2 separate regions of the Homo sapiens genome follow, and region 2 is linked to region 1. Evidence: fine-mapped expression QTL. Tissue or cell type: putamen. Region 1 holds a variant in brackets; the other region holds the start of a gene. All regions are shown on one strand. Distances are between the middles of the regions.

Region 1 (8,828 bases):
TATCGTATTCCAGCTCCCCACTGAACTCCAAACAAATGTATCTTGTTTGCCTATTTATATACCTGCTTGGAAGAAACGACCTCTCAAATCAACATGTCCAAATCTGAGCTTGTGCTTCTGCGCCGGCCTCTTCTCACCTCTCCCACGACTACCACCCCAGCTGAAACCAGCATCCTTTCTCACATAGATAAGTACATCAGCCTCTAGCTTAGTCTCCCTTCTCTGGCCCTCACACCCTTTCACCATCTCATCACACTAGCCAGAAACATACCGTGCATCAGAGGATATCTCTCTCCTCTTCTTGGAAACCACCAGCTCGCTTGGCACAAACACCAGTGACCTTTGCAATGGCCTGTAAGCCCACAGGCAGCATCCCTGGTGAGCTCTCCCTTCCTCTGTCTCACAACTCACTGCCAAACTGGCACCTCCGTGTTTGGCACATACCTGCACCCACCCACCTGCTGCAGGCCTTTTGCACTCACCATTCCTTCCACTTGAAAAGGTTTTCACCCAGATCTTTGCATCACCTATGCCCTGGGTTTCTTCAGTTCTTAAAGAACACCTTTTTGCTGTAAAGGTCCTCCTCTCTGAAATTGCACCTGCTTCCCAACACCTCTAGCATTTTCCTTCTTTACTAAGAAAAAATACTTAGTTCTTAGATTAATCCAGCATGATACACATTTATTTTTTGTGTTGTTGATTCATCCATTACAATGTATAAACTTCAGGAAAACACTTGCATGAGCATGATCTAGAATTGAAGAGATTTAAAGTGGTAGAGGACCATGTGTGATGGCTCATTCCTATAATCCCAGCACTTTGGGAGGCCGGTGGGAGGATCACTTGAGTTCAGGAGTTCAGGACCAGCCTGGGCAACATAGAGAGACCCTGTCTCTCTCTCTGTCTCTCTTTTTCTAATAGCCAGATGTGATAGTGCGTGCCTGTAGTCCCAGCTACTCATGGTGCCAAGACGGGAAGATCGCATGAGCCTGGGAGGTGGAGGCTGCAGCGAGCTGTGATCACGCCACTGCACTCTAGCCTGGAAGACAGAGCAAGACTCTGTCTCAAAAAAAAAAAGAAAAGAAAAGAAATGATCGAGCTAGATTTGAAAGGGAAAAGGAGAGAAGAAAACATACACAGGACCTGTGTAAGTTTTTATACCTTAGCTGGAGTATTTGCTGGCCTAATTTATGGAAATAAAGAACAAGGATGGCCATAAGCAAAGATGTAATTGAAGAAAGGTTGTATGTGACCTGAGAATGATCGTCTGGATAAAAAACGTTTACAATGAATCAGCGATTGCCTCCTTTATACTCCCTTTTTCCCTTTCATAAAAGAAAAAGTATGCAATATTAGTAGGCTTAATTGACTTACATTACTTAAAGCCACACACAAACAAACATGTAAAAATCAGATCTCTCTGCAAACTGTGGTTCATGATTCTGAGTCCCTGAAACAAACAACAACAAAAAAAATTTTAAGTGTCGGATGTTGTTTAGTTACCAAAAGAGAACCATTTATTTTTTGATCCAGGGTCTTGCTTTGTTGCCCAGGCTGAAGTGCAGTGGCACCATCATAGCTCACTGTAACCTCGAACTCCTGGACTCAAGCAATCCTCCTGCCTCAGACTCCGAAAGTGCTGAGATTACAGGTGTGAGCCACTGCACCCAGACTAATAACCATTATTTAACATCTCTGCATGGTTTTGTATATTCTTTAAAAGTTATTGGATGTAATTCTGGCAAAGTATGCATGTGTGCTAATACACAGGTCGCTACACAAAGCAGTCTACATTTGACTGTGCCAGAGTCAATTCTTGAGATATACTGCAATCAACAAAGATGCCCTCTCAGAGCCTCAAGGGGAAAATGTTCATTGTGCCCAAGTTCTGACTTTCAATGGAAATAGTAGCCATTATTCCTTAGCTTTTCCTTCATCCACAGAACCTTCCAGGTCTGTGTTAGCACACAGTTTGAAAGATCTCCAAATGTAATATGCTAAAGGATCTCTGACAATGCATATAACTCCATATAAGCCAGATGACTATTTTCCCTCCCAACAAAATGCCTTTTGATTGCAGCTTGCAGGGACAGTGTCTCTATGGCTAAAGGGCAATGCATTGTCCTTTGTGGTCATGAAATCTTAGATTTGTGTGCCTTATGTCTGCTATGATGCTGCCATTTTAGTTTTCTGGTGAGCCTTCAGTGAAAATACATAGAATTGAAAGAGGGTGTACTGGAAAAGGTAGAGGGACCACCAAGTAAATCATCCTCCACAGAACCACAGCAGAGTACTGCTGACCCTAAACTCATCACAGTCCTGACCCTTAAGGTTCTTATGCTTTTCAATCGGGGTGACTCTTAAGATAACGAATGAAGGGTGTTAGCAGGGGATAAGCACAGGGGCATGGTGAGTCACTTGCAGAGAAACCTAACCAGCCCTTAAAGGGAAGATTCTTGGAGAAAATGAGTCCAAAGCTGAAGCCCCAAGGACAAAACCGAGAAGGCCAGAGCATTTGCAGGACTGGATTGGAAGCATATAAGCAAAGTGGAAAATATGTAAGAGAATGCAGGTAAGAGGGAGAAGGGTAGAATGGTGTAGTCAGGGAACTGCAAGTAATTCTTGTTTCTGAAGCATGGAGTGAATAAAAGGAATAGTAAGAAATGAGACTGAAAAAAAAACAAGGGCCACTTGGTGAGGATTTTTAATACAGCATCAACCAATTTCAGTTTTACTCGGGTATCAGTAGGTACTGAATGAAAGGTTTGTTAACAGAGGATTTATGTGTCCCAGTTTATATCTTATAATAGTTACTCTGGCCAGGCTGAGGAGAGTGAGGGATCTAAGAGGCTGGTGCAGGATCCTGGAGAGATTCCTGAATTAGGTGATGGGCATGAATATGAGACAGTGCATAGATTCAAAGAAATTAGGGTATTAAGAATACCTTAGTACTTCGCAGTGGTTGCTTCTTCACCTCATGTCCTCAGGAAAATCCAGCCTGACCTCTAGGTTTCTGGCTCGGGCAGTTTGGTAGATTGTAGTGCAGTTTGCCGAGATGAGAAACACAAAAGAAGTAAAAAGATTCTACTTGCTGTTTTTATTGTAGTGGGTGATGCTTGTTGTTGGAACGAGATACTGAGACCAGTTTCTGGAATTGTTAATTTGAAGGTGGTGGTATCCTCAAATGGAGTTGTCCAATGCAAAGTTGAATTTGTAGTAACTTCACTATTGTCTGTTAAATACCTTGCCAAGTCATAACTGAATTACTCGGAGCACAGTAAATAAAACCCTAAGTAATTTGATTATGTCACATCAGTTAATGATTTAAAATCACTTACAATTTGTGCAAACTTGAGACAGCATAGTGGAAAAGCTAGGAATGATGACAGTAATACAGTGTGTGCATGGCTGATGAACACCATGGAAAATTATTTGGGGTCACCAGTTGATTTAACATCATGCTTTCCCATCTCCTGCATTACCCCAATTTCCAGTAGATAAAGTAGTAACATACCTGGATTTACAACCCTGAAGAAATCCAAATGCCTCTATGAGCTTTTCATCAGTAACTTTTGTACAAAAAAGTCATCGCCAGCTTATGTCTGCTTGGAAACCAATATGGCATTCTAATTTATTTCCCAAAGAAAACATTAAAGAGCTTCACAGCAGAATGACAGATGATTTAATCACCTATTTTTAGACAGATTAATGTATTCCAAAAAAATGTGGTGATCATTAAAACATACATTTATGGTGGAATAAACTATTTCATAAGAGCGGGCAGTAATATCTGGTACGTGAATAGGAAATAAAGTTAATGCCAAACACACACGTATAAAACCATCCTGTTTGGCTCATGAAATTATTTCTACATCAGTTATGAGAACAGCAGGAGGGTGGGATGGAGCCACTGATGAGGGCAGTGAAGAAAAAGTGGTATAACATCATCTTTTAAACTTTCATCTACAGTTTTACAAATGATGAGTGCATCTTCTAAATTTTCATCACCCACTGATTTTCTGAATAAAACCTACTACCACAAACTGGCCACTTTTGGCAACACATATTGTTGCCATGCATGACTCAAGAATTCGTTTTAAAGAAGAGAAAAGGGAATGTTTTTCTTATTTCTGTCTAGGCAGAATGGGGATATTTATCCATGTTCCTTCTTCTTATCCTTGAAGGCCCTGTAATTGTTTTATTCATCCAACCACAGCACCATCTTCTGGGCACAGAAGCTGGTACCACTGTAGCAAGATGGGGAATGGGAGCATGTAGGATGTGATGCTTTGATTCAGTCACTCGCTCTGTAGCCAGCTTTTCAGCGAGCATACTGAAAAGAGGAAGGAAACTAACGTTTGAAGAGACTAATCAAACTAACATTTGAAGAGGCTAATCAACTAATGAAGAGACTAATCAATGCTTACCTTACCATA[T/C]ATTACCTGATTTAATTATAACACCCACGAGAGTCAGTGTTCTTAGTCCAATTGTATAGTTGAAGTGACCTCCCAAGATTATACAACCTGTAGGTAGCACAGACAGAATTGGAACTTAGTCCATTAGGTGGAAATTATCTGGACTGCAAAATAGGCTCATTGCACCATATCTTCTGTCCATTGACTTCAGTTGAGTTGTTTAGCACTTGAAGGGGTATGATCTGAGGGAAAGTGCCATCAAGAGCAGGTGAGATTGCAAGCAATGGAGTTAACTGTCACTGTTTTTTCTCTCTGTGAATATAATTGCCATCCAAGTAACTCCTGTGTTGCCTATGTGAGAAATGGCCTTTATGTAGTAGGAATGTTAGTTCTGCAGATAAGCAGTAAAAGGACCCTAAGCTGATTATTTGACTTGATGATTGGAATTATATCCAGTCCTATATGAAGGCCCAAGAGATAACTATTCAATTAAAGCTGCTCAATTAATTTGCATTTAAGTTAAGATACATTTTGCAGATTCCTCCCTTTTAAAACACCTTTAAGCATGCATATCAACTGCTCTTAATACAACAGACTTACAGGCTCCCTAACCTACAGCATGGTTCCAAGAAGGGTACTGGACAGGCTTCTGATTAGAGTGGGGAATTAGGAAGGTTCTGGGGCCACCTAATATAGGAAAAATAAACCATGATGGAGCATTGAGTCAGCATGATTTATGATTTTAGGAGTATCTGAATGGAAGATGTTCAGAAGCAAGTTCCTAAAGGGTAAGTGGAGAAAAGCTATGTAGCCAAGTTTACCTCTTTTCTGAAATTCTATAGTGGAGATGATTTTTTTTTTTTTTTTTTTTTTGAGACGGAGTCTTGTTCTGTCACCAAACTGGAGTGCAGTGGCGCAATCTCAGCTCGCTGCAACCTCCGCCTAGTGGAGATGATTTTTTTTTTTATTATTGTGGTAAAATACAGATAAAGGTAACGATCTTAACCATTTTTAAGTGTACAGTCAATGGCATTAAGTACATCCACATTGTTGTGCTGCTGTCACCACCATCCATCCACAAAACTCTTTTCATCTTCTAAAACTAAAACTCTACCCATTGAACAATAACTTCCCATTCTCCTCTCCCCTTAGTACCTTGTAGCAACTCCTCCACTTTCTGTCTCTACGAATTTGACTACTTGAAGTACCTCATATAAACAGAATCATATAGTATTTGTCCTTTTGTGACTGGCTGATTTCATTTAACAAAATTTCTTTCAGGTTCTCCTGTTTTGTAGCCTATGTTAGAATTTTCTTCCTTTTTAAGGCTGACTAATAATATGTGTGTATACTATATTTTGTTTCTCTATTTTTCCATTGATGGGCATTTAGGTTGCCTCTACCTTTTGGCTCTTGCAAATAATGATGCTATGAACATGGGTATACAAATAACTGGGTCCCTGCTTTAAGTTCTTTTGGATATGTACCCAGAAGTGGAATTGCTGGATCTTGTGTAATTCTATGTTTAATTTTTTGAGGAACTACCATACTTGCCATACTTTCTATGGCAGCCACACCACTTTACATTTCTAACAATAGTGTGCAAAAATTCCTTTTCTTCACATCTTCACCAACACTTGTTATTTTCTGTTTGTTTTTTATAGTAACCATGCTAATGGGTGTGAGGTGATATCTTATTGTGGTTTTAATTTGCATTTACCTAATGATTATGGCATATTGGCCATTTGTATATCTTTGGAGAAATGTCAATTCAATCATTTGCCCATGTTTTAATTGGGTTGTTTTTGTTGTTGTTGTTGAATTGTATATTCTGGATATTAACTCCTCATCAGATACAAGATTTGCAGACATTTTCTCCCATTCCTTGGGTTACCATTTCCATAGTAAACTTGACTTTTGTGTGTATACAAAGCATCCCTCTTTTTAGGGAACACCATACTCCTGGGCATATGGCTGAACCCTAGCCAATCAACATATTCCACCCTCTTTGTCATATTTATTTGCCCAAGAATGGGCTCAGGACCCAAGCTAAGCCTATGAAAACTCACCCCAAGACTTTTCTCCAAAGTCATTATGAAAGATGCACTGTCTTTCTGGGATTAGGATCTCTGGTGACTATGTCAGCCTAAAATGCCAGAACCATCTTTCCTACCACATTGAGAGAGAATCTGAATATGAAGCCAACATGTGGGAAACAGCTCAGAACCCATGCCCTGTTGATGCTGTCAGAGAATTTGGTTTTAGGATGTCAGGAGACAGAACTTCAACTCAGTGACCATGCCTGGAATTTCTAGTTTTGTAAGCCCAAAACTTTTTTATTCTTTTTTCCTTGAACTTGATTGACTTTAGTTTCTGTCATCTGTGGTCAAGAGAGTATGCATGAATGTCCAGTTGGAAATGTTAATTCTTGGAACCAGCAGCTCAAAGCATGCCCTCTAGTCAGTGCTTAGGATTGATTAGAATAAAAGATGTTAAAGAAGAAAGGATGTTGGAGTCGATTACTCAAATTATAAAAAGTGAGTTTGGGACTCCTGACTGTGTTATTCCCTAGGTCTTCTGCTCTTTCCAGCTATATAGTGGCCAAGACATGTGAGACTAGGAAGAGATGGATAGTTATTTATAAGGAAAGGGGCTTCAAATGTCTCACAATAGTTTAACATTGTTACTTTAAAATATTTTCCCCTCTAAACTGTGGTGCTTTGGATGAATCCTGGCACCTCACTCTGTGTCACCCTGCGATTTGGCCACACCTCTTAAGAACACAGATATCCAGGACTAGAATTGCAGTGCTCCATCTGTTTCTTGCATTCCAGCGCCATCCCATAACCACATCAAATTATCTGTGAAATGCAATTTAGAACTCACTTAGTGAATAGGATGCCACATCCTATGACCACTCCTTAATTTTTCTTCTTTGGAAAAATGTGTGACCTATAACCCTGACCTATGACAGTTCCACCCATAGGCAAGCAATGTGTTAAATAGAAAGGGCACTGCTGAATCACGTTAAGCCTCCAACATTCTGCTTAACAGGACTAGCGTAGTAGTTAGGAGTGTATAGGTGTTCCTTTTCTCCCATTTCTAATGTAACTCCAATACACCCATACTGGCACGCATACTGAGAGCTTATTTACCATGCTTTTTGATCAACTATAACTTTTTTTTAAATAACTAAATGATAAATTCTAAAAATAAGAGTTTCTATTGCAACAACAGACAAGACCTTAGTGCTAGAAAGCACATCATCATGTCAATGGAACAACAAATCATGAGCTTGACAGTAATGAAGCTGTTGCTGAGACATTTGTCTGTCTTTTTACAGGGCAATAATTCAAGTTTGAAGGCACGTATTTATTTAACGTTATGTCTAGGAATAAGTTGCCTTCCTAGCCTGAAATTTCTTTCTTTACCCAATGACAAAATTGTACATAATTAATGAGTGCATTCATTGTGTTTTGTTTTTTTAAAAAAATGGTCTAGCAAAATTTCCTTCTGAACATTTAGTTTAATCATGTTTATTAACTACAAACCGTGAGGTACTTGCCAACTCTGACCATAAAATGTTCTATTCTGAGGCTGTCTCTCTGTTTCTGAGGAGAATAAGAAGTCAAATGTCTTGAAAATAACCAATCCCATCCTGAGAAAACCTTCTAGTTACTTTCTCTCCTCGGATTTTGTTTTTTTAATTAAAACAAGCTAAAGTGAAATAAATAAAACAAAATGATCTGTAATGGTGGAGGCAAGTGGAATGAAAGTACATTTTCCATTCAAAACAATGTACACATGAATGTTTAAATTCATCAGCCTTTCACTGTGTAATAATGTGACATGTTTACAGTGTTGAAGGAAATCAGGTGTTTTCATGCTAAATGAAAATAAAATTTATGTACTGTTATTACCATATTCTTTGCCTGGTGTTTCTCACTCTATTCATCATTAAAGGCTGCTCAATAAATACTGTGCTAACTGCCTGTGTGGATGTTATGCAGTAATAACTCAGAATAACCATAAATAACCACCCACCAGCGCCTTGGGGAGAGTCAAGGCTTTAAGAGGGAATGCTTGCTCCCCAGTTGCTAGATGGTGTAAAAAAGATCCCTAAGTCGATTTTCTCTCCATAGTTGATACATTAGAAGCAAGGCTTAGACCCCAGTATTCCACCTTAAGACAAGGTCTTTGTCCATCATCATCTCAGGAGCTGAGGCAAGCAGTGGGCTAAATAGTGTGATTTTAGACATCTGAAGTTTTCTTCTACGCAACTGTTATCAGAAAACCTCTTGGAGGATTACTTGTCTCCTTGTGTGTTAGTTCTCTATTGCCGCATAATGAATTTCTCCAAAATGTAGCAGCTTAAAACATCAAACATATATTATCTCACATAGCGTTAGAGGG
Region 2 (8,828 bases), 81 kb before region 1:
ATACTGATTATTAAAACCAGTAGGCAATACTTTTACTGCTTCCCTGCAGTGTTATAAATTGTAACTTTCCTGATCTAACTCTTTCTGAAATTCTTTGTAGAAACTAAGCTGTCAAAAGCCTCTATATGTGATTTTTGTGGTTCAGAAAGAAGTGTATGTGGAATTACATATATGTAGTTTTTTAAATGGACACCTTAAACTGGTGCACACACACCTTAATCTATGTTTAAACTACACTGATTTATGAAGATGAAATGTAAATGTAAATTATGTGGGTTACCTTTCGAGGATGAAGCCTGAATTGCAACATATGAATATGAACTTTGAGTTATGATAATAAAACAGACTTTCTCTAAAAGTAATTAATCGACATTAATGTTATACTTAACTTCTAAAGACAATTTAAGGGGACAAGAGTAAGACTGCTTTAAAAATAAGTGTATGGCAGTAGGGATGAAGGTTGGGATGTGAAGACAGGAAATCTGTGATTTAGTAGCCATTACTGGTACCTGACAATAATTATGTATGACCTTGATTTAGTCTATAGATAAGAATTATTTTTAAAGCTAAAAAAATGGAAAAGCCAATCATGTATGTTTATTTATTTTTACCATTTGACTCTATCAGAAACATCCAAATTGCAAGTAGCTAACTAGTGGGGAGGGGGACCTGACAGTACAAGGATTTCTTAACGGTTCTCGACAAAGTGGTATAGAAAGTAATTTTATGCCACTTTTAGCAAAACGAGCTCTGACTCACTTACTTTGAAGATACAGAATAATAATCCCACAAAACTCTTCAACCTAGGACATTAAAATATTGTTTCTTTTGAAATCAAAACATTTGGTGTGTAAGCTTGCATTTGGTTGAGAAATACGGTGCTTGTCTTCTATAAAAGGATTTTGCTTCCATTTTATTGCATGTAATGATTTTGGTTTGCTGTCCTGAAAATTAAAAGCCCCATTTAAACTTCATGTTAATTTAAGAAAGACAAAATATAGCTTAACATACATTTGAACAGTCAAGGAATAGGCACTGATAATTATTTGGAATAAGGATTTTTACAAGTTAGTAGTAATAAGACTAGATTTGTCTTACTAATGAACATTTTTCCAATAGTGTCTTGCATATATTTAATGAAAGTTTCCTGCCACTAGAAAAGTATATAGTAGGTGTAATTTAAAGTGCAGAAACAAAAGCAAGATAAAAGAAAAAAGAATACATTTCAAATATATTTCTAGCTTCAGTGAAAATAACGTTGTTTTCCAAGCTTTATCTATAATTATTATATAATGTTTACTTTATACTAGTTAACTGTTATATAAATATCAAGATAATACTTCTTCGTATTCTAACATGTCTTAATAAATCAGCTAATAATATAAGGAGTGTCTATTCACTTCTCTATTTGAGCTTTCTACTGCTGAAAAAATAGTTGTTTATTATTACCTAATATTACTGCTTTTTATTTAGAAAAATCAAACCAAAATAACTTTGGGACTTACTTAGAGATCAAGAGGTGCTTGTTGATGCTCACTTAGTATGAATGCAGCTTATTTTCTGTGACAGAATAAATGTTTTATTTCTACTTTTCCATTTTGTTCTACCCTTGCATAGGAAAAACAATTTTACATTAACATGTACCACTTCCCCTCAAATGTTAGCATCCATTACTTTAAAATTCAGGCATTTTAGTAAAGCTAACACATCTTGCTTGTTACTCCTCTCTTCATATACTTTCCCAGGGATGGCTTTTCTCAGTAAAATGAACTTCCTTTGTCTATCTTTGACTAAAAGCAAACCTTTAAAATTTTAATGAGAGATGTTTCCAGTATAATGAATTAGACCAAAAACTCACTCTCTCCTTCTTCTTTCTCCTTTTGACCTCCCCAAACTTTCAAATTGAAGAGATTATAATCAAAATCAATACTAAGCTTTTGAAATTGGGTCTCAAAGTTGAAATTCAAAGTAACAAAACTAATCTTCATGTCTGGCTTCTAGACCAGTTTCGTTAGACACAGCTCACATTCTGCCACCTCCATTCGCAAGTAAAATCTATATTACAATTAGTATAATAAAGCTACTTTTGCAAATATTGTTCGTAGATATAGATATGCATAAATAGGAATTTAGCTGCAAGTAGAAGTCAGAAGCTCTGATAAACTGTTTCTTAGTTTTGCTGAAGGCTTTGGGCCATGACTTTTTGTCATAAATGTTAGAACTCAATTGTAAACATTGCGTGAAATGGAGTAGCCTTGATACCCATCTAGATTATACTCTGCATTATCTTCATACAGACAAAAGGAATTCTTGATTAGCTAGTGCTGCCTGAGAGGCAGTATGGTTTAAGAGTTTGGATTCTGAACACACACTACTTGGTCTCAAATTCTAGCTCTTACAAGCTTTGTGACTGGGGACGTTATTTAACCTTTTTGTGCCTCAGTTTCCTTATCTGAAAAATAAAGATGATGATATTATCTACTGACTGTTGAGAGGAGTAAATCAGTAGGTGTAAAGGACAAGAGAAGTGCCTGGAATGTATCAAGTTCATTTTAAGGGTGTGCTGTTACTGTTACCTAATTTCAAATTTGCTACTTCTTGATGTCTTTTAAAATATCCCATGAGGAAGAAATGGGAAACATGCCTTAGTATCCTATTCCAGTATTTTGCAGTTTTTATTTTCAGTGAAGTATTTTTAATTATTCTATCTAGGAGATAATTGCATTCTCATCATGCTTTGGGCCTTTGAGAAGAGACACTGTCATGAGCATAAGCTATTTTCGTACCTGAAGGCAGCCTGATACGGTGGAAAGATCCTGCATACTAGAGCTAAAAACCTGAGTTCAAATCTTAGCTCTACCGTCTCCTGCACTGGAACTTATGCAGGCTTTTCAGCCCCCCTGAACTTCAGTTTCCTTGTCTATAAAATGGTTATAGTGATTTGTATTAATTAGAGTTGTTTTAAGGATTAGCTAAATGTACATCATCTAGCACGTAGCAAGCTCTCAATAAGTATTAGTTTTATAGTAGTAAATATAAAGGTGATAAAATGATTTTATAATGATAGGTTTAGTTATTGATAAGGTATAACCATAATAGGGATTACTGTGCAAATTACTACTGAAAAGTAATAACCACCAATTCATTATTTATCATTATATAAATAATTAGACTACTCTTCAGATCATTGTTGCTCTTGAAAGATAAGTCAAACTTGAGTTTGCTTTTTTGCTAAGAAAAGTAATCCAAGTTTCTTTACTTTCTGTTTCCAACATTTACATTTCTCCTCTGAATCTTCCAGCTGATCATGTCATTAATAAATAATGGATACTAAATTAACCCAGAGCTCACTGAAGGTCTGGTTAATTCTGTTCATGTGGAAAAGAGCATAATCATTACCGCATGGTTTTCTATCAATTAATTTCTTTTCTAACAGAATAACATTACTGACTTGTGTGATTGGTGGGTACCCTATGACTGACTGTTCTTTTTTGTCCTTTGGCTAGTCTTCAGCTTTCTTCTTTATAATTTTCTGCTTGCTTCTAAGTTATTTAACTGTATCATTCATTTCACTTATGACCAGGAAACACAAGAGGTGTTAAGTAGAAAATAGCTTAGTTTATTTCCTTGCTGCTATGATATATGTAGTAAAGCCTTGCCAACAAAGGGAAAATATGGTGTGACCAAATGGGTAAAACTTTATTCTCACGCCCCATCACCCTTGTTGCATCTAATAATGATAATAATGTGTACTAGGCCACTTTGTTACCAAGCAAAGATTTTGCCAAAATACACCATTACCACGTAGAAATAACATATTAAAATGAGTTTTCAAAAGGTGTACTTGCTGCTGTAGAAGTCATCTCTTTTTCTACGCTTATCTCTAAACATATTAAAAATTGTTATGCCATTAAAGTATGAAGCCCAACACCTTATAGCTCGTGAGTCTTTTTTAGAGCTTCATTGAGTGCTTCATTTTTCATTCATTGTGTGAATGAGCCCATGGTTTCTATACTTTTATATGTCTCCATTGTATTATTATGCAAACTTAAAAAATATCTTCCTGGGAAAAATAAAATATAAGCTAGTAAATTTCTTTGGTATAATTTTAATTAAATGTGCTGAAGACTGATGATGATTCCTTCTTTCCTATTGACTATATGAGAGTGTGTTTAGGTGAATTAAAAATACAAATATGTGTACTGCTGTTTCACTTTTTAAGGCTGACTGCCTTTAAAAGCTGGATTTGAGAGAACTAGCTTGGCCAGAGGATTTTAGATTAAATCCTCTAAATGCATGCCCGTTTAGAAGCTAAATTAACAAACTCTCTTCATCAACTTCTCAGGTTTTCTCTTGCATGCCCATGGTAGCTAGAAATATCACTAGTAGAACGGACAGAGTCTTTGACATAAATTTAGAAGTAAAACTCACATGTACTTATTCTTCTACGTAGTGTCTCTTCTTGCAGTCAAAACAGAGCCCTTGAACAGCAGTGAAACCACAGCCACGACTGGAGATGGAGCGCTTGACACTTTTACTGGGTCAGGTAAAGCCTTTAGCTCGTGTGTCCTTACGTACACATGGGGGTGCATCCACATCCTCCTCCTCGGGAATAAGCAACATAAGCATCCAAGCTCTTAGAACTTTGATCCTTATAAAGTTAGAAACAAATTCTTATTTTTTGAGAACTCATAGTCATAGCAGTATGCATTGTTATAAATTATATTTAGAATAATTTCGCTTGATATTTTAGTTGACAGCAAAAGTCCCATGACTTTCTTATTATGGATAAGTAAACTTAACTTCCTTCAAAATTATTTTATACGATGTTTAATTAATTTAATAATTAAGTTGTAGTAGCTGACCTTGCTTCTTCAACTTACCCATTTGAATTACATAAAAACTGCCTTCTGTTTAACATTCGAGATGTAAAACTATCCATTTGATTCCTTCTAAATAACCTTGTTTCCTCTCTGGGTTTAAAAAACTCCTCCTGTGTAAGCAGCTGAGTGACAAGTATTAAAGGTTAATGGGCTGCAGGAGAGCACATGCTGGTTGCATTAGAACCCAGCCTCTGAGAGCGCTCGAATGCTTCAAAGAGAACAATAGCATGTCTTTAAACATCAATCCCTTTAAAATATAAATACCTGATAACTCCCAGCTGGGCACAAAGGGCATGAATTAAGTAGACTTAATTAAATTTTTTTAAGTTACAATATTTCTTCGGCTTTTTATCTGGTGAAAGGATTTTTCTAACCTGAGGAGGATCGGGTACATCAGAAAGAAGAACATTAAACCTAGGAAAGTATTTGTGGTAATTGAATCTCGGTTCTGTTATTCTACTTTAATACATTTTACATTTATCCATGTGCTCATGTTATAAGGATTTTTTTGTCAGTATGTTTTGTGTAAAAATAGTTGAGATATGTCTTAGAGTATTATGTCATTATAGCATATATTTGATTTTTACAGATGATCTAATTTCACTAGTTCACACCGATTAGAAGCAGTTGCCATATATTTACATAAATATTAGTACTCCAAGAAAGAAATAATAGTACATAAACTTTGCACAGAGACTCATATGTACTAATCCACATCTTTTCTAGCAGTTTACCTGCCTCTCAGGAGATAGTTACCAGTTCAGTATTCTGTATTGCACACTTACCATAGCTTTTGTAAACTTTCTGCAAAATAAATCTATATGAACAAATTGTTAAGGAAAGGAATGGAGTTATTAACTTATTGCTGACCTACTTCAGTAGTATACTACAAGTTAATTGAAAGCTGAATGACAAAACTATAAAGTGTTAGCTCCAGAAGGAATTTCAGAGCTCTCTGATCCGTTTTGTAGACAAGAGAAGTTAAAAGTGGTTAAGGCCATACAGTCAAGGCCTCACAGCTGGTCAGTGGTATAAACAAATCTAAAACCATGTCCTTATGATCAGTCCCTGGGTCCTTTCTGTAATGCCCCATCAGAAAATAGATGGAAAAAGAAATAGGCATGAACAATCATCCTGTCTGAAATTCACTCATATTGTCTTTGTAGATATTTTCGCAAATTTTTAAAGAAGTATCTAGGGACGTGCTGTCCAGTAAGGTAGCCACCAGTCATATGTGGTTATTAAAATTTGATAAAATTAAAAATTTTGTTTTTTATTTTCATTTTCACAGCAATATTGCAGTAAGTATATTTTTATTAATTGATTTTGAAAATCATCAAGTACGACTAGAGGCGTTAAGTTCTCAATATTTTCAGCAACCAAAATTTAACTGAATTTTCAAGTTTAAACACATTTCAAGTGTTTAACAGCTGCATGTGGTTAGCAGCTACCATATTGGACAGCTCAGATACAGAACATTTCCAACACTGTGGAAAGTTTTATTCCACAGCAGTGATCCAGGGCAGGGATTATCAACATCAGCACTGTTAAAGACTTGGGCTAATTCTTTAGTGTGGGAAAGCTATCCTCTGCACTGTAAGATGTTTGGCTGCATCTATCCCAGAATGCCAGCAGCACTCCCCCAGATGCTTCTTTACTAAAGAAGCAACCAAAGATGTCTTACTAAAGACAACCAAAAATGTATCCAGACTGTTTAAGTGTCCCCTGGCAGGCAAAATTCTCACCCCCACCCACTTCTCATCCCATTGAGAGTCACCAATCTAAGATGGCACGATAATGAGAATGAAACCTTAAAATTGCTTTGACACCATCAGAGAAACTGACAATAGATATTAAACATGTATTTAAATTAATTTTCAGGGCATTTTGAAAACAAGCAGTTTTGCTTACTGTTGTATGCAGAAATGATGGAATGTAATGAGTGTTTTGGGTAATGTTTATGATTAATCAGATGACAGTGGGGAATAAAACGAAATTCTTTCAAGTTTGTACAAGATATTCCAGAAACCATTCTGGAAATGAGGCTGCCCTTTGTGGGAGCAGTCTTTACTTTGATCTGCAAAATTTCCACTCACTTTAATCCAATTTTGTTGTTCTTTTCAGTTATCTGCAAATTTCTGAATTAGAACAAAATGTATATATTTTAGTAAAGAAGCATAAACTTTCCTACGTGAACATCGTAGTTTTCTGAGCCAAAGGTTTTCTGTTCTATTTAGAAAATGAACATATAGACGTTAATAGAAATTTGTAAAGGTTAGTTGAGGCTTTATAGTGTTGTGAGTACATTATTCTAATGATGTTTAGATTTATCATTAGAAGAAACATCCTATATATTCAGAATTGAGTTCATGTATATGAGTTTTTTCTGAAATGTGTAATTTTGGTCTATGTCTTATTTATAAAAGGTTACTATAATGAATATTTATCTTCATGATTCAGCGTCTCTTTGGAAAAGCCTTCTATTTCACAATATTGATAATAACTGATGAGTATAGCCCAAGTCTTGAGTGTACCAAGGAGAAATTCTGTAAAGAAGAGACGAAAGAATATTTAATCAAGCGTCATTTAACTATATTTCTGTTAGAGTATTTGGTATTGTTAATCGATAAATTAGAATGAATATCTTTGGAATAACACTACTATTATGAAGTGCACATTTAATGTCCATTGTGTAGTAGAACAAAGAGTCTGTTTTCATTAAGTTGATTTGAAAATTTAAAACGTTCTTTAAGTTTTGATAAATATGTAGAAAAGTAATAGTTTATTGGTCAATTTATTTTCAACGATACGTATCAAATTCAGTTAAATTCTGGTTGCTGAAAATATTTAGAAGTAACACCTTTAGTCAAATTTGATGATTTTCAAAATTGACTGATAATATTCTTAAAAATATACTTACTTCATTATCGCTATGAAAATGAAAATATTCTTTCCATATTCAGAGCTTATAGGCAAAATAGCATTTTAAACACATTAAATGATGCATGTTTGTGAAGCAGATCACAAGGGTTCTTGTGATATATATAGAAATATATCATGTTTCATAAAATAGTTAGCAACCTAAACCTATTTGTCACTTTTACAATTCTAAAAGTTTCGCTCCAGAATTATTATGAACAACTCAGAAAGGACATAGTACTTTGAAGTATAACTATGATTGATTAGACTAAACTAATTCCAGCACTGCATTGTGTACTACTTTAATCTTTTTGAAAAGTGAATGAACAGCAGATGGCCTAATAAAGACACTCTGTGTGCTCGCTCAGTGTGGATTGGCTCTAAGGGAACTGGCTCACACTTTAGAGTCCATATATTTGCAAAACATCTGTCTTAGTCAAGGCAGATAGTTAAAGGAAAGAGAAACTTCCAAGCTATTGGATATATTCCAGTTTGGGGCTCCATGTTTGGATGAACTGTTAATAGGACCTCACTTTCACCTTTAAGTTCTTCTCAGAAAAGTATTATCTCTAATAGTTCAAAGTATATTTGTAAATGTAATTGCTACTGCATTTTGTGATTATGTTTTAAAGAAATCACCTGCACTTTCTTTAATTATTACTGGAATATTTTAGACTGCATTTTTTAATTGTTCATCTGATGGGTAAAATGAGAGGAAATAGAATAAAATAGTATTTTACCATTAGAAAATGAAGTTTGGAACATCACAGTCTTATTTTGTATTGTATTTGAATTAGAACAGATATGGAGGAAGAGCAATATGTATATATTGCCATCATATTTGGTATTTTAAAATGTAAAGTTTGCAAATTTTAAAAATTTACTTTTATATTTTGAAAGCTTAATTACCCTATAATCAAAGATATTTATTCATAGCATATTAATATATAAGAGCATGCTAATGATTTGAGAAACTGGAAGAATGACAGAGGGAATGATTTGTGAGACAAATGTTTATTTCATGCT

What was found.
Region 2: EYA4-AS2 starts here. The variant in region 1 is fine-mapped to the expression of EYA4-AS2 in putamen (GTEx, PIP above 0.99).

The regions. Positions count from the first base shown.
Region 1 is chr6:133,532,836-133,541,663 of GRCh38, forward strand. TARID (TCF21 antisense RNA inducing promoter demethylation) reads right to left here. Exons shown (of 9, transcript NR_109982.1): 6 at 2,945-4,523. Among named protein-coding and RNA genes, the nearest start is that of EYA4-AS2, 81 kb to the left of the region's middle. The variant T/C (reference allele first, on the strand shown) is at 4,437.
Region 2 is chr6:133,452,103-133,460,930 of GRCh38, forward strand. It overlaps EYA4-AS2 (EYA4 antisense RNA 2), which reads right to left and starts at 4,503. Exons shown (of 3, transcript NR_199014.1): 1 at 4,432-4,503; 2 at 1,506-1,560; 3 at 583-944. EYA4 (EYA transcriptional coactivator and phosphatase 4) reads left to right here. Exons shown (of 20, transcript NM_004100.5): 6 at 4,454-4,546.